Linked DNA regions of Homo sapiens. The protein of the gene in region 2 purifies or fractionates together with the protein of the main gene of each other region. This does not show direct contact. Each region holds a gene or a part of one and is shown on either strand. Other genes may lie near its edges. The genes, in order: COPS7B, DET1 and STK40.

The links.
Region 1: the proteins of DET1 (region 2) and COPS7B purify together in Homo sapiens (affinity purification with mass spectrometry; 2 studies listed by BioGRID and IntAct, with this or other methods). This does not show direct contact.
Region 3: the proteins of DET1 (region 2) and STK40 purify together in Homo sapiens (affinity purification with mass spectrometry; 2 studies listed by BioGRID and IntAct, with this or other methods). This does not show direct contact.

What each region holds. Positions count from the first base shown.
Region 1 is NC_000002.12:231,803,268-231,807,092, forward strand, and holds part of COPS7B (COP9 signalosome complex subunit 7b), read left to right. Parts: intron 1-3,825. UniProt on the Homo sapiens protein: Component of the COP9 signalosome complex (CSN), a complex involved in various cellular and developmental processes.
Region 2 is NC_000015.10:88,544,784-88,548,383, reverse strand, and holds the start of DET1 (DET1 homolog), read left to right. Parts: upstream 1-1,702; 5' UTR 1,703-1,844; intron 1,845-2,008; exon of another isoform or gene 2,009-2,120; intron 2,121-3,600. UniProt on the Homo sapiens protein: Component of the E3 ubiquitin ligase DCX DET1-COP1 complex, which is required for ubiquitination and subsequent degradation of target proteins. The complex is involved in JUN ubiquitination and degradation.
Region 3 is NC_000001.11:36,379,139-36,382,963, reverse strand, and holds part of STK40 (serine/threonine-protein kinase 40), read left to right. Parts: intron 1-3,825. UniProt on the Homo sapiens protein: May be a negative regulator of NF-kappa-B and p53-mediated gene transcription.

The DNA.
Region 1 (3,825 bases), on a different chromosome or scaffold from region 2:
ACCTGGGGAGGAGCGGTAACCCCCGGGGTGCATGAACAACAGAAGGGCATAGGGGGAATGACTGCTTCCAAGTGTGGTGTGGGGGACGAGTGTGGCTGAGATGGCTTGAGTGCAGGGCATGTGTTGAGGAGTGGGAAGGAAGGTACCTGATCTTGGTATTTCAGAACTAGAGAAAAAACCAAGTTTTTCCCTGGGCCAAGTCTTATTTCTTTTTATTGCATGTCAGGGTTACTGAGCCCCTAAAAAAGCTGAATGAGAGCAGTTTCTACAGGAGAAAATGGCTTGAGGAAGTAAATAGGCATCTGAATAACAGGGGAAAGTGTCCATGCTTCTGTCTACTTATTTGTTCAAAAGCTTTTGACAGGATCTTGAATCTCAAAGGCTTTTAAATAGAATTGAGTCACCATGAGAGAGGGAGGCTGCGTTATGGTAGGGAGTGGCAGTACAGAAATGAAGCAGAGGGTCAGCCCTTCTGTGACTGCAGAAGGATGATGCGCGGGCTCCCTCAGGACCAGAGTGAGAACCATGAGTTTGTGGCTCTGTGAAGGAGAAGCATTGGAAGTGTTGAGCTTTGAAAAGAAAAAGAGTAAAACAGCAAAGCCTTGGGAGTCAGTTGAACTGGTCAGTTGCTGAGAGGCTGGCAGCGGAGCGTTGCCGTTGGTGGATGTGCCACAGGCAGAGTTTGCTCCTTGGCTGGCAGGTCAGGGACTCATCACTCAGCCCAGCCATAGATACTCTGAGTCCAAAGCCGGCCCAAATCACCTTGGGCCACTCTAAAGAGAGAAATAAATGCCGGTTGTCACTTTCTGATAGGCTGATAATGACTTTATGCTACAAAAACATAGGTGAAGCGGATTGAAAATATAACCATTATTTGGGGATTGATTAATGCCTTTTCCTTACTCATGCAGGGGTTATGAGACTGTCAGTAAATCTAAGACATGTTAAATAATGTAGAAAACTATTTGTAGTATAAGCTGATTTTTTTTTTTTTTTTTGAGACAGAGTCTGGCTCTGTAGCCCAGGCAGGAGTGCAGTGGCGCGATCTTGGCTCACTGCAAGCTCTGCCTCCCGGGTTCACGCCATTCTCCTGCCTCAGCGTCCCGAGTAGCTGGGACTACAGGTGCCCGCCACGTCACCCGGCTAACTTTTTATATTTTTAGTAGAGATGGGGTTTCACCGCGTTAGCCAGGATGGTCTCGATCTCCTGACCTCGTGATCTGCCTGCCTCAGCCTCCCAAAGTGCTGGGATTACAGGCGTGAGCCACTGTGCCTGGCCTAAGCTGATTGTTTAGTAAAAATTATTACACAAATAACTTGAGGAAATAAGGCTAAATAGTGCTTATCAGACAAGATGAAATTAGGAATTTTTTTTGGTTTTGTTTTTTTAATTTTTAATAAAGCTATTTTGCCAAATGGGAAAGGTAATTATTTGCTTGGAAAGATACCCCATTTTGGAAATACAGTCCTTGAAACAAAAACTTGTTTGTTTTCTAATGTCTTATTTGATTAAAATTTTGTCAGCTTTTGGGGAGACTTTAAAACACATTCCCTCAGGTAATGTTAAATTGCAGGATCTTCTTTGGAAGTTAGAGGTAACTGACATGCAAATAAATAAACTAAAGTCATGTCGTTACCTCTTATTATGATTTTAGTTCATTTTCTTCTGGATATTTAGAAAATATATCAAATTGGAGAAGCCTTAGAATGTTATTTTATAAAGCAGTGTTCCCTGAGAAGTCAAATTTCTTAATTTTTCCTCCAATGTCATCAAAATATGCCTTAGCTGGGCATGATAGTATGTGTCTGTAGTCCCAGCTACTTAGGAGGCTGAGGCAGGCAAATTGGTTCATGCCAGAAGTTTGAGACCAGCCTGGGCAACATAGCAAGATCCCATTTCTATTTTTTAAAAAAAGTCTTAAAACAAATAATATTTCTTTTATCAGAGAAAGAGTGATAAGCCATTGGCTTGCTCCAGATCATTCACTCACCACCTTGCCAGGTGACTCACTGAATGAGGTACACCAAAGTGGCAGTGAGCCGCTGGGAGGGCGAGATGCCTCAGGGTTCTGGGGTTCCCAGATTGTGTTTTGTTGTCTGGCAGGACACTGGATAAACCCAGAGTTGAATTCCCCTCCCTGTTTATTATATATATATATATATATTTTTTTTTAAATTTTATATATATATATATATATATATTTATATATTTCCAGGCACTGGGTCTTGCTGTGTCACCCAGGCTGGAATCAGTGGTGTAATCATAGTTCACTGCAGCCTCAAACTCCTGGACTTAAGTGATCCTCCTGCCTCAGCCTCCTGAATAGCTAGGACTATAGGCATGTGCCACCACACCAGGCACATGTTTTTTTCTTTTATGTCTTTTTGTTGAGATAAGGTCTTACTTGAATGTCATCTAGGCTGGAGTGCAGTGGTGCAGACATGGCTCACTGTAGCCTCTACCTCTTGGGCTTAAGCGATCCTCCTGCCTCAGCCACTTGAGTAGCTGGGACTACAGGTGCATGCCACCATACCTGGCTAAAATTTTTTTTTTTTTTTTTAAGAAAGACAGGGTCCCACTATGTTGCCCAGGCTGGTCTTGAACACCTGCTCTTGAGCAATTCTCTTTGCTCAGCCTCCCAAAGTGCTAGAAGTATAGGTGTGAGCCACCATGCCCAGCCTGCCCTCTGTAATGACTGTTCCAGCCCACAGTCCTCTGTCATTCTCTCTTCAGAAAGGCTACAGCGTTGATTGAGGTTACAGAAGTTTAGGGCATGGCTTTTCCCCCTGTCTCAAAATAGTGACAACAAAAAACAATTTATGATCTAGTTAAGGTGGATTCTGCAGATGATGGCTCTCCTCCAGGAACCCAATTTTTGTCTCACCCTCATAGCATTGTTTTGTCTTTGCATTTGGACTGTCTCTTACCCTCAAGCTCATAATATTCTGACTGTTGAGAACTTTTGACCCTGACAACTCCTTTTCACTATGTAGAAAACTGGCTGGGTGTGGTGGCTCATGCCTGTAATCCCAGCACTTTGGGAGGCCAAGGTAGGAGGGTCAGTTGACCCTGGGAGTTTGAAAACAGCCTGGACAACGTGGTGAAACCTTGTCTCTACAAATAAGTTTTTAAAAATTAGCCAGGCATGGTGGCAAGCGCCTGTGGTCCAAGCTGCTCAGGAGGCTGAGGTGGGAGGATCACTTAAGCCTGGGCAGTTGAGGCTGCAGTGAGCTGTGATTGTGCCACTATACTCCATCCTGTACAACAGAGTAAGACTCTGTCTCCAAAAAAAAAAAAAAAAAAGACTAAAAAAGCTATTACTTATTTGACTGCACTGTTCTTCCCTACCACCACCATCCTCTTCCTGCTGTTTCTTCCTCTCAACGAACTGAGGAGCAAAGGTTTGGAATAGTCACTTTTCAGCAGGCAATATAGCAGTACTGATTCAAATGTAAAATGTAAATCGACTTTGATCTGGAAAGCTCACTTCTAGGAGTATCTTCCATAGATGTTCACAGAAGTATGCAAAGGTAAACATAAAGGGCTGTTCAGAGTAGCACTGAAACCCAAACTAGGAACCAATTCAAAAAACTGGAAAACTGGAGAACCTTCCTAATAGAATAGGGTTCAAGTGTCACAGAGGATATCTGTTCTGACGTGGTAAAATGTTCAAGAGCTGCTTAAGTATTTACGAGTCTGTATTTTGTTAAGTGAAAGAAAGCTATACTGCACACGGTAGTGTCATAGCATTTTGCCAGTACTTCTATTACATTTTCTTCATTTCTCACTTAGTTGGCTGAAGTTCATCCTCTACTGGTTTATTC
Region 2 (3,600 bases):
CCCATTTAAGCTCCTGTATAGATGCTCCTTTTTATTAGGCCCCAGTCTTATTCCAGACACCAGACCAACTTAGACTGTGCCCCAAAAAAACTTGTCATCCCTGCTATCTTCTGTCTAGTCATACTCCTATTCACCGTTCTCAACTACTCATACATGCCCTGCTCTTGTTTACACTGCCCTGCTCTTGTTTACATTGTTTTTCTAAGCCATCACAGCTGATATCTCCAGGTGCTATCCACAAACTGCCACTCTTAACTCTTGAAGTAAATAAATAATCTTTGCTGGCAGGACTATGCTGAATCTCCTTAGGCACTCTCTAATCAGATATCCTGAGTCATCCCAATTCTTAGACCTTTTATACCTGTTTTTCTCCTTTTGTTATTCCATTTGGTTTCTCAATTCATCCAAAACCATATCCAGGCCATCACCAATCATTCTATATGACAAATGTTTCTTCTAACATCCCCACAATATCACCCCTTACCACAAGACCTCCCTTCAGCTTAATCTCTCCCACTCTAGGTTCCCACGCCACCCCTAATCCCGCTTGAGGCAGCCCTGAGAAACATCGCTCATTCTCTCTCCATACCACCCCCCAAAAATTTTTGCCGCCCCAACACTTCAACACTATTTTTATTTTTCTTATTAATATAAGAAGGCAGGAATGTCAGGCCTTTGAGCCCAAGCCAAGCCATCGCATCCCTTGTGACTTGCACATATAAGCCCAGATGGCCTGAAATAAGTGAAGAATCACAAAAGAAGTGAGTATGCCCTGCCCCACCTTAACTGATGACATTCCACCACAAAAGAAGTGTAAATGACCGGTCCTTGCCTTAAGTGATGACATTACCTTGTAAAAGTCCTTTTCCTAGCTCATTCTGGCTCAAAAAGCACCCCCACTGAGCACCTTGCGACCCCCACTCCTGCCCGTGAGAGAACAAGCCCCCTTTGACTGTAATTTTCCTTTACCTACCCAAATCCTATAAAACAGCCCCACCCTTATCTCCCTTCGCTGACTCTCTTTTCGGACTCAGCCCACCTGCACCCAGGTGAAATAAACAGCTTTATTGCTCACACAAAGCCTGTTTGGTGGTCTCTTCACACGGACGCCCATGAAAGTGACTGCACCCATCCCAGCAGCAGTGTATGAGGCTTTTGATTTCTCCACCTCCTCACCAGTATGTGATATCTTCCTTTTAAAGATATTATAGCCATCCTAAGGGGTATGAAGTAGTATCTCATTGTTTTGATTTGCATTTCTCTGATAATTAATGATGTTGAAGGTCTTTTTGTTAGGGAAGCAGGAGCCTACGAGAGCCAGAGTGACATCATTTTAAAATCAACTCCATCTTAAAACTAGCAAGGCAAATTCCCTGTTAGTCAGAGATGATCAATACAATCTCAGTCTTCAAGGTGCTCGCCATCTAGAAGATAACAGAGTAGGAAGTTTCTCAGCATCTAATCAATAGGTGAAAAATTAATTCTATTCATATTTTTTCAAATGTGCCCAGCAGGTGCAGAGACACTGCCATTGGGACTCACAGAGATTGCCAGGTTAGGTGCCATTTTAATTTTTCCTTCGGAGCCATGGAGCCTCTACGGCTTCGATCCTTCCTCCGGGCACAAGGGTGCGCTGTACCTGTCTCTTAGTGTTGGCTGAACAGTGCCGTGCTCTCCCCTACTTCCCTTTTTGCTGGGCCGCAGTTCCGGTGGCTGGCGGAAACGGGAACGTGCAGCCGCGGGTGCAGGAGTCCTGGGGCATGGCGGGGGCGGGGCAGGGGGAGGCGCGCACAGAACAGGCTGGGGCATCCCTCGCCCTGGCTCTTTGAGCCCGGACCAGACAGGTGAGGACTTACCATTTTTGGCCCAGCCTCCAAGCCCGTCAGACCCTCCCCGGCAGGCTCCTCCCTGCATGACGCTGATGCCCAGAGGCCCCGCGGCCCCCGCCCTCCCTCAGCATTCTCTTCCCTTTGAGGCCCCGCCCCAGGCTTTTCTTTCCGGGGGCGCCCTTTTGGGTATGTGTGCCCGCCCCTTGGCATCCCCTTCTGGTTTAGAGGCCGTCGCAAGGAATTGAGGGACATGTGCACCTTCTCCCATAGGGAAACTGAGACCCAGCAAGGGTAAAGGACTTAGTACCACACAGTGAGTTAGTGTGTTGTACCCAGGGGTGTTAGAGAAAACGCCACACTTTGAGACGAATTAAGAGTCCTTTATTAGCCGGTGACCGAGAGACCGCTAACGCTCAAAATTCTCTCGGCCCTGAGGAAGGGGCTTGATTAACTTTTATACCTTGGTTTAGGAAGGGGAGGGGGGGTCTAGTTAAAACAATTTTACAGAAGTTAGGTAGTCAAAAAGTTAAAAGGATAAATGGTTACAGGAAAGTAAACAGTTCCAGGTGCAGGGGCTTTATGACTATTACAAGGTGATAGACGTGGGGCTTTGGGTGTTATCAATCAGATGAATTCTTGGGGACTGTGGATATAGCTTGCCACAGTATCTTATCAGTTAATTGCATTCTTGGATGTGCTGGGAGTCAGCTTGCACAAGTTAAGTCCTTGAGGAAGGGGCTGCCAGTGAAAGAGCCAAGATGGAGTCTGTCTGGCTCTCTTAGCTAAGGGAGAGTCTAAAAACAGAGTTAGTAAAAACCAGGTTGGGCATTACATTCCCCACTTGTGTTTTTGGGGAATCAAATCATTGATTCCTCAGTTTTAACAAGGGGAGTCTTAAGATACATAAGTTTGACAGAAGCTATGCATTGTTTTACAAAATTAAGAAACCAATTTAATATACAAGGCCTAAAAATTAAACTTAATAGTATGATGAGGAGAGGTCCAGCTAACCCAGTGATTAAAGTAGTTAGCCAGGGGTTCCAGTGGAACATGTTTTGATACCAGGGGATGTTATTTTCTCGTTCCTGTTGTTGCCTATCTAGATATTCTCGAACTTTTTGGAGGGTATCTTTTATGACTAAGAATGGTGGAGGAACAGTTAAATCAACTTTGTCAGGGGGTTTCTGGAACATAGGGTCACCTAGAGCAGTTAAAGGCCCGATTGGCTTGGGTGGGCTCCATGAGACCAGGATTTTTATTTCTATTATTTATTTATTTATTTTGGATGGTGAACATAGTCCCAACATCAAATCCTGGAATATAAAATGTTAATTTCCATGACATGCCGTAATATTATTGTAAGAGGATTACAATTTTTTTTTTAGTACATAATTTAGGATGAGAAGCACGAGTTACCGAATGAAGATCTGGTTGATCCCCCAGAGTAGGTGGCTAAGTTTACACATGTCCAATCAGGGCAGAAAAACTGATAAGTATCTCGACAGCTAGCGTCAGGGTGATTCCCAGGACAGAGGTAAAAGTCAACATTTTGGAGTTCTTTTTCTGCACCTTTGGCACTTCCACACATCCAGTTTGGCTCCCAGAGCACCCAAATCCTGCTACAAGGTCGACACTTCCTGCTTTTGGGACAAGCAGATTGTGTTGCTCTTCGTGGGTACAGGCTGGCTTTGGGAACAGTATACATAAAATCAACTGCAAAGGAGACTTCCTTAGAGGTACCGGCCCTCCAAGTGGTGTTTGCAAATACACG
Region 3 (3,825 bases), on a different chromosome or scaffold from region 2:
AAAAAAAGCTTATTTGGCTCTGCCATCAGACAGATCTGTGTTCTACTTCTATCCCTGCTGGTCACTAGGGATTACTTATTCTCTCCACCACAGCTTTCTCATCTGTAAAATGGGGACAATAAGAGTACCTTCGTAATAGGGCAGTTGTGAGGAGTAAGTAAGATGTTACAGGATGAGTACTTAACAGACACTGAGTAGTAAATGTTAGCTCTTATTACAGGCTACAGGAAAGAACTTTTAGGAATTAGTTGCAGCAATTCATGGCAACTAGAACTATGTCCCATTGAGCTGTCAGAAGTGTCCTGAGGGATCACAAGATCACAGAGTTTTATTTTATTCTTTCTGAAAAGAAAATCTAAGGGGAGTTTACCCAGTCTGTATGGGAGCCATGCAGATGATTCAGTTTGGCTCTTTAAAAGAACTATTTTTAAAAATAGAAGTAGGACTGCTGAGAAAAAAATAGTACTTTAAAGTATACATGGGTTGGCCAGGCGCGGTGGCTAACGCCTGTAATCCCTGCACTTTGGGAGGCCGAGATGGGCAGATCGCTTGAGCCTAGGAGTTCAAGACCAGTCTGGGCAACATGGCGAAACCCGTCTCTACAAAAAATACAAAAATTAGCTGGGCATGGTCATACGCACCTGTAGTCCCAGCTACTAGGGAGGCTGAGGTGGAAGGATCTCTTGAGCCCAGGAGATCAAGGGTGCAGTGAGCCGAGATTGCACCACTGCATTCCAGTTTAGGTGACACAGTGAGACCCTGTCTCAAAAAAAAAAAAGTATACATGGGAGTAAATGTATTTAGAATTTCTTCTCTGTGTGTCCCTGCTAGCAACCCTAGTCTGGTACCTGAATAAGCAGCATCAAGAGGCATCACACACACTGATGAGTGTGGTAGCTCAAAATACAGAGCCCTGATTCCACATACATGAGCTCCCATGTGTGGCTGGGGCTCTGCTGGGTCCTGGGGGCAGGAGGAGGATGGAGAGGCAGGCCCTACCATGGAGGAGGTTGTGATCTAGGGGCAGGCTCCTAACCAGTTAACATGTGCACAGTTTGGCAAGTCTCTCACAGAAGTCTATAGCATGTGGGGGAACCCAGTGGAAGAAGTGATCGAGCTCTAGGATGAGGAGGAGACTGGGGAGAACTTCAGAGAGCCCTTAGAACTTGAACTGGGACTGGGCACAGCAGCTCACACCTGTAATCCCAACACTTTGGGAGGCCGAGGCAGGAGGATCGCTTGAGCCCAGAAATTGAAGACCAGCCTGGCCAACATAGTGGGACCCCATCTCTACAAAAATTAAAAAAGAAAAAAATTAGTTAAGCGTGGTGGCATGTACCTGTAGTTCCAGCTACTTGGAAGGCTGAAGTGGGAGGATCACTTGAACCTGGGAGTTCCCAACTCCCAGTAAGCTGTAATCACACCACTGCACTCGAGCCTGGACAACAGAGTGAGACCCTGTCTCAAAAAAAGAACTTGAATTGGATCGTGAAGAATGAATAGAGTTTTCTGGGGGTCTATGAAGCCCTCCAGGCAGGGGGAGCAGCCTGGCACAAGCACGGATATGTGGTAATTTGTGTGGCACTTTAGGAACCACAGGAGTTCTAGCCCAGAGTGTGAAGGGACTGACTGCAGGATGTGCCTGAGAGGTAGGCAGGCACTAGGGCGCAGATGCTTGAATTTTGTATTCTGTTGGTGATGGATGCCTTGCATTAAGTGGAGGAAACATACCATTAGACCTGCATCTGCTTTGGAGGATGGAGTGGGTTGGGGAGAGGTTGGAGTCCCCATAGGAGGCTGTTGCAGTAATCCCAGCAAGGGCTGAGAGGGGCTTGGATCAGGGCAGAGGCAATAGGGTTGAGAAGAAGAGCAGAGATGAGCTGTTTGGGGGGAAATCAACTGGACTCTGGGAGTGTTTGGAAGTGATGCCAGAGGGAGGAGGAATGGTGACAGGTAACCTTGAGGTCCTTGGTTTGGGTGACAGAGTGAATGATAGTGCAGAGATAGGGATGGCTCAAGGAGAAGATAATGGCCAGTGAAATCTGCCAGCTTCGTTCAGTAAACCCTGGGCACACCCTCTCGGGAGAGGATCAGTTGGAAGGTCTTGTAGACCCCTGTCTGGACTTGGGCCAGGCTTCCCTTTGCTTTCGCCTGAATCAGCACCTGGGAGAAGGGCAGCTTTCCTTCCTTCACCTTTCCTCTGCCCAGATTTAACCAGGGAGGTGAACCTCTTCATGTTTCACATCTATAAAGCGATAAATCTTCAGCCTTCCAATAGCCCTAAGAGCAACCCTTCCCTCTGGCAATATCCACCCCGATTCAGCATACTACAGCCCACTGATGGGGTCCTGAACAGCAGAGACCCTCAGGGGAGAGAGGCTTTCTCAGTGCCCCCTGGAGATCTTATCTAGAGAGAGGTCTGGAAATTGGATTTGCTGCCTGAAGCTGGCTCAGCAGATTCAGTCCTTCTTCTCAGGAAGGACTGATATCTGCCAGAGGCCACCCAGGACTTGCTCAGAACCTTCAGGGAAGGGAGAGAAAGCTGCCCAGTGTCCTTGACCCTTGAAGTTCTAAGGGAGCCAGAAGCTGTCCCTCAGCTGGATTGGACTATAGTGAGGGGTGTGCTGGTGGGCGGGCCTTCAAACAGGCCCTTTGGAATTTGGGAGATTTTTTTACATGATTTGTCCTTGGGTTTGTGGTGTAAAGAAAGTAAACGAGAAAATGATCTGAAACAAGAGCACTTCTTTCTCCTCCACCTGCTCAGGTGAGACTCTGACCTCGAAGGTAGTCGAGGGCCCACAGCAGCCCCCGCATATCCTCCCAGGCTCTGTAATCAAGATCCTAGAGGGGAAAGGATGCAATTGCTTGCTGTGATTTACTTACTATCTTAGAGATAGTTCCACTTTGGCACATGCAGGTCTGGGTCATTTGTGGCTATGATGTGTCCCACTGTGAGTGTAATTTATTCAACAAGCTCTCTGCTAACAAACACTTGGGTTATTTTCTGCATTCTACTCTCTAAACACTTCTGCTGAAGTGACTTTCTTCATACATATGATTTTGCCCACCTTAGGTATCATCTGCAGGATAAATTTCTAGAAGTGAATTGCTGCCTCAAAGACTATCCTTTATTATTATTATTGTTAAAGAATTTCTAGGTCTCCTTTTAATAAATTGGGGCAGCCTTATTTTTCCCCCAGCAAGTGAATCTGTTCTTTTGGGTTGAGGTCGTACGTCCTGAGGGGAACACAGGTGTTCCCACTCCCTAAAGAGGCTACAACCCAGGCCGGGCGCGGTGGCTCACACCTGTAATCCCAGCACTTTAGGAGGCCGAGGCAGGCAGATCACGAGGTCAGGAGATCAAGACCATCCTGGCTAACACGGTAAAACCCTGTATCTACTAAAAATACAAAAAATTAGCCGGACGTGGTGGTGGGCACCTGTAGTCCCAGCTACTCGGGAGGCTGAGGCAGGGAATGGCGTGAACCCAGGAGGCGGAGCTTGCAGTGACTGCCCTCCAGCCTGGGTGAGAGAGCGAGACTCCGTTTCAAAAAAAAAAAAAAAAGAGGCTACAACCCAACGGTGTTCATTCTCTCCTGGCCATGACAGTCAGTCTTGGGTGTGAGTTCAGGCTCCCCAGAACTTAGCAGTCTACAGGCCTGACGGTTTCAAAGGAACTCTAGTTGTTGGAAAGCACCAGAGGTAGAAAAACTGAGAAGGGGTCTTGGCATGCAGAATAAAGCTGTCCCCTCTAAATATGTTTACACACTGCCACCTACTTGGCAAAAGAGATAGAAGATCTTCAGCCTTTAGGAAGTCTGGATG